Regions from separate parts of the Homo sapiens genome. Here region 1 is reported to be linked to region 2. Evidence: microRNA targets listed by miRTarBase, many of them from high-throughput screens and not tested one by one. Region 2 holds a microRNA gene; the other region holds the end of a gene's coding sequence.
The links. Region 2 holds the annotated microRNA hsa-miR-4794 (UCUGGCUAUCUCACGAGACUGU, at 2,779-2,800, shown strand). A microRNA usually pairs through its seed, bases 2 to 8, with sites in the 3' UTR of a target mRNA and lowers its output. Matches are read on the target gene's strand: a 7mer-m8 pairs with bases 2 to 8, a 7mer-A1 pairs with bases 2 to 7 and ends in A, and an 8mer does both.

Region 1 (4,404 bases), not on the chromosome of region 2:
AAACTATTAAAATGACAGAAATGCAAGATTACCCTCTCCTGGACCTTAATTCATTGTAGGCCAGTGTTTCTAGGAATAGTAGTTCCACTATCTTAGGAATAAGTAAGAAAATGTGTTGAGACTAATTCCAAGGAGAAATATTGATCACCCCCAACTCGGGCGTCATGTATCATTTCAGGGTAAATAAATAAAATCTTGAGAATCTTAAAAACTCTGATCTTTCCTTTACAGTTCACTTGCTTTCTATTGCAAGTTAACAAAAGTCAATTCCAAGTGGTTTAAAACAAGTGGCTTCATTGATTTACACGTCAAAAAAATTCAGAGGTAGGGTCAGTGTTAAGAAAGTTTCAACAGTGTCATCAAAGACCTAGTTTCTTTCCTCATACTAACAACTTCATTCCAAGATGGGCTCCCCTTAGGGTTATAGGATGACTACCAGAAGCAACTGCAGCCACATGCATCCTCGTAGACATTCAGTATTGAGAAACAAAAGTCCCTAGCTTCATTTTAAATATACAGTACTTTGCTTAGCCAATCGACTTTAGCAAGAGGGATGAAGATATTTTCATAGGTTTGAAGATCACTCCTGGGGTTGGCAGGAGTGATAACATCACTGTTGTACAAATTCCCTCTCTCTTCCATTCTACAGGGAAAAATGAGACAAATGGTGGAAAATCACAGTGTTATTTAATCTAGTGTTCCCTCATGTAAAAACATATGAAAAGTCCAAATAAGCATATATTTGGGATGGGATGGTTGGGGGCATTGCTGCTCAGTTGTTTCTCTATGTGTTAGATTGGTTGCACTGGGATTTAATAAGTCAATTTTTAAAAAAGTAATAAATTTTAAATTTTTTTGAATTTTTAAAAAGTCAATTAAATAATTTATTTCTTTCTAATGCCAGGGACAAGATCCACCAGCTCCTCCTGTGGACTAACTTTGTGATATGGGAAGTGAAAATAGTTAACACCTTGCACGACCAAACGAACGAAGATGACCAGAGTACTCTTAACCCCATTAGAACTGTTTTTCCTTTTGTATCTGCAATATGGGATGGTATTGTTTTCATGAGCTTCTAGAAATTTCACTTGCAAGTTTATTTTTGCTTCCTGTGTTACTGCCATTCCTATTTACAGTATATTTGAGTGAATGATTATATTTTTAAAAAGTTACATGGGGCTTTTTTGGTTGTCCTAAACTTACAAACATTCCACTCATTCTGTTTGTAACTGTGATTATAATTTTTGTGATAATTTCTGGCCTGATTGAAGGAAATTTGAGAGGTCTGCATTTATATATTTTAAATAGATTTGATAGGTTTTTAAATTGCTTTTTTTCATAAGGTATTTATAAAGTTATTTGGGGTTGTCTGGGATTGTGTGAAAGAAAATTAGAACCACGCTGTATTTACATTTACCTTGGTAGTTTATTTGTGGATGGCAGTTTTCTGTAGTTTTGGGGACTGTGGTAGCTCTTGGATTGTTTTGCAAATTACAGCTGAAATCTGTGTCATGGATTAAACTGGCTTATGTGGCTAGAATAGGAAGAGAGAAAAAATGAAATGGTTGTTTACTAATTTTATACTCCCATTAAAAATCTCTAATGTTAAGAAAACCTTAAATAAACATGATTGATCAATATGGCAGATGATTTACAGTCCATTATATGACATTTGTAAGCCACTCAACACTAGCCTTACAAGGTTCATGAAAGGAGGAAAACATTAATTCTTTCTGCCTTTGCTGATATAATCCACATAGTAATAATTTAAGCTATAATTTATTTTTAAAATGAGTGCCTCTTGGGAAGCTTCTTTTCTGTTCTAACAGTTCCCTGTTAAAATGAAAATCTTAGGCCAGTGCAGTGGCTCACACCTGTAATCCCAGCACTTTGGGAGGCTGAGGTGGGTGGATCACTTGAGGTCAGGAGTTCGAGACCAGCCTGGCCAACATGGTGAAACCCTGTCTCTACTAAAAATACAGAAAAATTAGCCAGGGTTGGTGCATGTGCCTGTAATCCCAGCTACTCAGGAGGCCAAAGCAGGAGAATTGCTTGAACCCGGGAGGTGGAGGTTGCAGTGAACCAAGATCGCACCACTGCATTCCAGCCTAAGCAATAGAGCGAGACTCCCTCTCAAAAAAAAAAAAAGAAGAAAATCTTAAAGCTGTATTAGGGCCTGTTAGGTTACTGATATTTGAATGCCTATTTACTTATTTACTACATTGAGTCTTTTGTTATCCTCTGACCTATAAAATATTTTAATAAATTACTGGTTTACTTCAAGGGAAAAGAAGGAAAATGAGAAACATACATCTTTTTTTCACTCCTTATCTCATTCCTGTTTGGTGATGGGATGGATTGGGGTAGGAAGGAATGTTAATATGAGAGAAATTTTAAAATGTATAAAAAAGTAAAAGGTTGTATTGTTTTGCTCAGTTTGAAATAAAGTGAATACCAATAGCACTTAAAAATGTCTGCATGGGCTGGGCACGGTGGCTCACGCCTGTAATCCCAGCACTTTGGGAGGCCGAGGCAGGCGAATCACCTGAGGTCAGGAGTTCGAGACCAGCCTGACCAACATGGTGAAACCTTATCTCTACTAAAAATGCAAAAATTAGCCAGGCATGGTGGTGTGTGCCTATAATCCCAGCTACTGGGGAAGCTGAGGCAGGAAATTGCTTGAACCTGGGAGACGGAGGTTGCAGTAAGCTGAGATCGTGCCACTGCACTCCAATCAGGGCGACAGAGCGAGACTCTGTCTCAAAATAAATAAATAAATAAAAATGTCTGCATGACCCATATGGTTATGAAGTTTTTTTCCTAGCAAATGATTGCAGATTATTTATGGGGGCTAGAAGATATTTTGCTATCAATGTAAGGATTTTTTTCCCCTTAGGTCAGTCTATTCACTGTTTAGATCTGGTAAATTACTTGTATGAATTGAATAAATTCTCTGTATCATTGTACTGTTTAATAGTCTCTGATACAATTGTGATACTCATAAGGTATTTTCCCCCCTTTATTATGATTACATTCTAGATCATAAACATTGTAAGGGCATCTTTTCATTATATAATCCAATATTGATTGTTTGAATTCCTCCTTGTACATCCTGGCTTTGTGCTCAATTTCTTGAAATAATATAACCAACTCTAAATTACTTGTGTTAATAGATCGGTAACATGACACAGGTAAGTTAAATCCTGGATAAATGAGCCCCACAGAATAAAGGTTTTTCCTCTTGCTGTGGCCTACTGGAAGCCTTCCTAACTCTATAGCTGGTAAAGTAGAGCAGAAAGGGCCAGAATGGCTTAAGATGGAGCTAAATCCCTATAGCATTCCATTTTCTGCTCTTGCCTCTTGAACTTAGAAGGCTTGCCCATATATCCTAACAATCTGTTCTCTGAGCTGTTAGGCCAATCCCTGGCAAGAGATATTGATGTAGTCACTGAATCTATGGCTCACAAATAATTGAAAATTGGCTTTGGGAGCTGGGCGCAGTGACTCATGCCTGTAATCCCAGCACTTTGGGAGGCTGGGGCAGGTGGATCACTTGAGGTCAGGAGGTTGAGACCAGCCTGGCCAAGACGGTGAAACCCCGTGCCTACAAAAAATTAGCCGGGTTTGGTGACACGGCCTGTAGTCTTAGCTACTCGGGAGGCTGAGGCAGGAGAATCGCTTGAGCCTGGGAGACAGGTTGCAGTAAGCCAAGATCACGCCACTGCACTCCAGCTTGAGTGACAGAGTGAGACCCTGTCTCAAAAAAAAAAGGCTTTAGAAGGCTTTATTGGATGAAATGGCTGAAACTTGGATACAGAATGTCTAGTATTAGACACCTAAAAATCTGGATTCTTTTTGGTTGTTGTTTTGAGATGGAGTTTTGCTCTTTCGCCCAAGCTGGAGTGAAGTGGCGCGACCTTGGCTCACTGCAACATCCACCCCCAGGTTCGAGCGATTCTCCTTCCTCAGCCTCCTGAGTAGCTGGGATTATAAGTGCCCACCACCACGCCCAGCTAATTTTTGTATCTTTAGTAGAGATGGGGTTTCGCCATGTAGGCCAGGCTGGTCTCAAACTCCTGACCTCAGGTGATCCACCCACTATGGCCTCCCAAAGTGCTAGGATTACAGATGTGAGCCACCGTGCCTGGCCAGAAAATCTGGATTCTTATTCCTAGTTCTTCATTTCTGTCACATGCACTTAGTTGACATTACATCTACATATATTAGCTTTTTCCTACATGAGCCATCTATTTACTTAGTAACCAGTGTTCTTAATGAAGTATTTAGTCTTGGGTTTCTTGTAAAATTTCTCTGCATTCCTTAGACAGTGTACTATACATGAAATATTCTTGTTGACCTAGTAATTTATATTATTCCATTTAATTCTTAAACCTATGGCCTTTT
Region 2 (4,404 bases):
GGGACTACAGATGCACACCAATATTCTTGGCTAATTTTTTGTATTTTTTGGAAGAGACAGTGTCCCGCTATGTTGCCCAGACTGGTCTTGAACTCTTGGGCTCAAGTGATCCACCTGCCTCAGCCTCCCAAAGTGTTGGGATTACAGGTGTGAGCCCCTGCTCCTGGCCCCTTTTTTATATTTGTGGTAAAATTTAATAATTCTAAACTTCTTCAAAGTACTTGATTTTCATAGGAATTTTGAAGAATATTATTAGAAATCATATTAATTTTTAAAAATCTAATTCTTATTATAAAGTAATGAGACTGTGCATAGCTTATGGTATCCTGCCAAGCATTTCACAACATTTGTTAAAATTGATTTGAAAAGAAATGTGGGGAGAGGGTTGATCTCCATATTACAAAGAGAAGCAATGTTGAGTAAAGGTTGAAGGTTTGGGCTCTGAAGTCAGAATATGGGTTTGAATCCCAGCCCTACCACTTACTAGCTTTGTAACCTTGAGCAAATTACCCCTTAGTGTCTACTTCTGGAAAATGGAAGTGTGCACCTAATAGGGTCCTTTAAAGGATTAAGTTGGTATATGCATGTGAGAGGCCTAAAATTGTGACTTGTACATAGTTGGCACTCAGCAGATGTTGGCATTTTTCTTAGTAAGGCAAGATAGAATGTTGCTACATGAAAGACTGGGGAATTTCTGACTGACAGCTGTGAATCCAAGTAGACAGAGCATGGATTTGACACCTTTTGTGAAGTGCCATAGGTGTTTGGACTCTGTATTCTTGGTACTTTCTGTCTCTATTGATGAAGAATGCAGCTGAAGGCCCACCCTAACCAGGAAGGCAAAGGCAGACATTCTACCCCGATCCCCCAGTAAAACACACCTCTGCCAGGGCTGCTCTCCCATCAACCAGTCACCCTGCAATCCCAAGGAAGATTCAGTTCCACAGCCAGCCCAGAGTTGAGGACCTTTTAACATTCTGCTCTTTGCCTTGTTTGATTATGTTAACAGAAATTCTCAGCCTGTGTGATTTGTCATATTTTAATATTTCAAGCCACCATTGCAGCTTCTTTTAGGTTTGGTTTGTCTGAGGCACCGCAGCGAGTGCATGAGCACACAGACTTTGAATTTGTATAAGTGAATGGCTCTTCCACTTACTTTGTGGCTTTGGGCTCATCACTTAACTCATTGATATAAAATGAGAATACCCACACTGTAAGGTCCTGGTAGCTATTAAAATTTTCTGAAGAACCCTGAAATCTCTTTGCAACAGATTTACAACTCACAGGGTACAATCTTGATAATTTTGATGATTTAGATGCAGTGCCTACATTTAGGAGCTTTGTTTCACCTGCTTCAATATGTATATCCTAGGATGGAATTCAGCTGATCCTGCATTTTCCAGTTTTCTGTTGTTGCATAACAAACCACCCAAAACTTAGTGGCATAAACAAACATGCTTACAAATTCTGTGGGTCAGGATTTTGACCAGGCACAGCAAGGATGGCTTATCTCTGCTTCATGATGTCCATGGCTTCATCAAGGGGCTACTCTGGGGGCTGAAATTATCTGGAAGTTTCTTGGTTCATGCCACAACTTGGGCTGGGATGACTTGGAAGACATGCTAAGCTGGGGAGCTGCCAACTAAGCACTGACTGTGGCCTCTCCATGTGTCTTGGACTTCTTACAGCTGCGTAGCTGACAGCTACCAAGAGTAAGCGTTCCAAGAGACAGGCATGTCCTTTTATGACCTAGCTTTAGGAGTCACGTAGTATCACTTTCTCTGTACTCCACTAGTAGAAGCCATCATAAGCCTACCCAGATTTAAGCAGTGGGGACAGGGGGACATGTAGACCCCACCTGCCAAAGGGTAGACCTGTTAAAGAATTTGTAGGAAATTTCTATAAAACCACTACACTAGGATTATGGCACCACACTGGGATTATGTTTCCATCTGGGGATAAATTAGGGCCGCTGGCTTCTACCTATAGCAAAGCAGGCCATACAGACTCTTGCAGCTACTTAATCTGCCATTGTAAAATGAAAGCAGCCGTAAACAATATGTAAACAAATGATCATGTTCCAATAAATATTAACAGTAAAATTAGAATTTCATGTAACTACTAAATATTAAAAATATTCTCCTTTAAAAAACATTTAAAAGTGTAAGAATCATTCTTAGCTCATGGCCTATGTAGAAAGAGGCAGTGGACCAGATTGGAATATCTTGAGTTTAGCTAGATCTGACTCTTCAAAGTTAGAATCCTCCAAATGTGTAGAAGAAACCCTTGGGTATTTCTCAAGTGGAATTAAGAGTGTGTGTGTGAGAGAGAAGGACATATGACTACAAATTTTGTTTTTATTTTAAAGTGAATTTGTGAAGATATTTCAAAATTTAGTTCTTTTAATTACATCTTATGTTCATTATGTTACAAAACATTTATTCCCAAGGGCAATAAAGGACTATGCACTTAATACTCCTATGTGGGAAATTAATGATATTTACTTTATCAGAAGTCAGGACCTACAAAGAAAAGGTAGAACTTGCTTCTTGATGGAGCTTCCAGAAATACATATTGTTGTATATTTTAAAAATAAGTATGTTTTAAAAGAGTTGATTATTAGAACAGAAGATAAGGTTGATGACTCTCAGGAATGAATTTTTAAAATCTTTATCACTTCATTAAATATTTTTTCTATGTCTATAATGCCAGGCAGTGTGCTAGAGCCTGAAGATACAGTGGTGAACAAAAACATATATCGTATGTTATCTTTTAACATCTGGCTATCTCACGAGACTGTATGTCCTAACAGTGCTTGTAGTCTCATGAGATAGCCAGATGTTAAAAAAAAAAAACAGCATCAAATTTAATGTGTGTTATGAGATGGCTTATGCAGGGCATTATGAGAATATAAGGTTTTCAAGCTGGGCCTATTGCTCTGACACCCTCTACTGCCCACTGAATGTGAAAGTCTAGGAAAAGAGGGTTGTTAGATTAGTTGCAAGCTGCTGTTTAAAAACCACGTTAACACGTTTGATAATGAGTGAATAGTCCTCTCTCCATATCTAGGCCACGTGTGATGGCCTGTTTAATATTGCTTTGGGGAAGGAAAAACAAAGAATGAAAAAAATTGCAGTTGTTGAAATGTACAGGATTTTTTTTCCCTGATAAGTTATCATTTTGGATGGGTGGAGAATTCAAATAGAAGAACAGTTTGGAACCTATTGACTGAATTACAAATTGGGATAATTTACTGATTTTTCTCTCAATCAAAGTTTTTCTGGGTGACAAAATCATTTGTACAGCAAACCCTAGTAACGTGCAATTTATCCATGTAACAAATGTGCTCATGTACCCCCGAACCTAAAATAAAAATTGGAAAAGAAAAAATAAATTGGTCAGAATCATACCCAAGAATAGCCCTTAAATAAAACATCTGGTTAATAATTATTTGACTGCAATCAGAGGATACTGCTAAAGATTTTTAGAGGACCCCTGAAAGGGTTATATTAATATCCTTAATAAAATGTGAATTTTTTGCTTAAAAAGTGATTTTCCAACACCTGTTAAAAAAGCAATCAATCGAGGTTTCAAGGTTTCTCATCTGGGCCATTAGTGGCATTTGAACCAGATAATTCTTGGTTTTGGGGTGCTGTCCTGTGCATTGTAGGATGTTTAGGAGAATCCCTGGCCTCTATCTATCTACTTTGCAGCATTCTCCACCAAGTTGTGACAATCAAAATTTTCTCCAAATGTCCCCTGAGGGTGGCAAAACCAACAGTTGTCTAAATTAAACTGGGTTTATATGTTTTAATTCAATGACCTCAATGAGGAAAACCTACTTTATTTTAATAGTAAGAAGTCTAGGTCAGGGAGTATTGTGAGTCATTTTGTACATTTCCAAGACCCACAACTCCTCCTTTGAAAATGATAAAATGAATTTGGACAACCCATTATCCAATTAAACATTATACTCATATCCCTTTGTTATGTCTGGAAGTTTTTCTAAACTTTATAGTTTATATAATTTCTAGCAAGGCTGAGAACCTCAGTTATTTAATTGAGACCCTGAAAGCTATAGAATATCCCTGGAACAAAATCAAGATTTAAAATTGGCTTGAAAATAACAAATGAAGATATTTTGATTTGACTCCATGTTCTCAGCCTGGAAGCTATTGGATTGTGTGAGACGCATGACCCAAAGGAGATGATTAGTTTTCCTCCAGTGTGATGATAATGAATAGCACTACAAAACCAATTAGCTATAATTCTATCAGTCATTTCCTTTGGGTAACATTTTGTTTAAAGGGAAGAAAAAACAACACAGTTTTCCTTGGAGATCTTTGATGAAGCTGTGGTATTTGATGGGAACAATGGAGGAAAAAGCAGTATGCTTACCAATTT

Region 1: the mRNA of SMIM14 is a reported target of hsa-miR-4794. Seed matches in the 3' UTR shown: 7mer-m8 at 1,989-1,995 and 7mer-m8 at 2,616-2,622.

Annotation. Positions count from the first base shown.
Region 1 is chr4:39,548,659-39,553,062 of GRCh38, reverse strand. It overlaps SMIM14 (small integral membrane protein 14), which reads left to right. Exons shown (of 5, transcript NM_174921.3): 5 at 905-4,404. The coding sequence ends at 937. All of the region lies in intron 2 of UGDH-AS1 (UGDH antisense RNA 1), which reads right to left. Among named protein-coding and RNA genes, the nearest start is that of UGDH-AS1, 23 kb to the right of the region's middle.
Region 2 is chr1:64,577,077-64,581,480 of GRCh38, forward strand. MIR4794 (microRNA 4794) reads left to right here and starts at 2,771; the gene lies at 2,771-2,847. All of the region lies in intron 2 of CACHD1 (cache domain containing 1), which reads left to right. It overlaps LOC124904195 (a long non-coding RNA gene), which reads left to right. Exons shown (of 2, transcript XR_007066150.1): 2 at 1-2,768.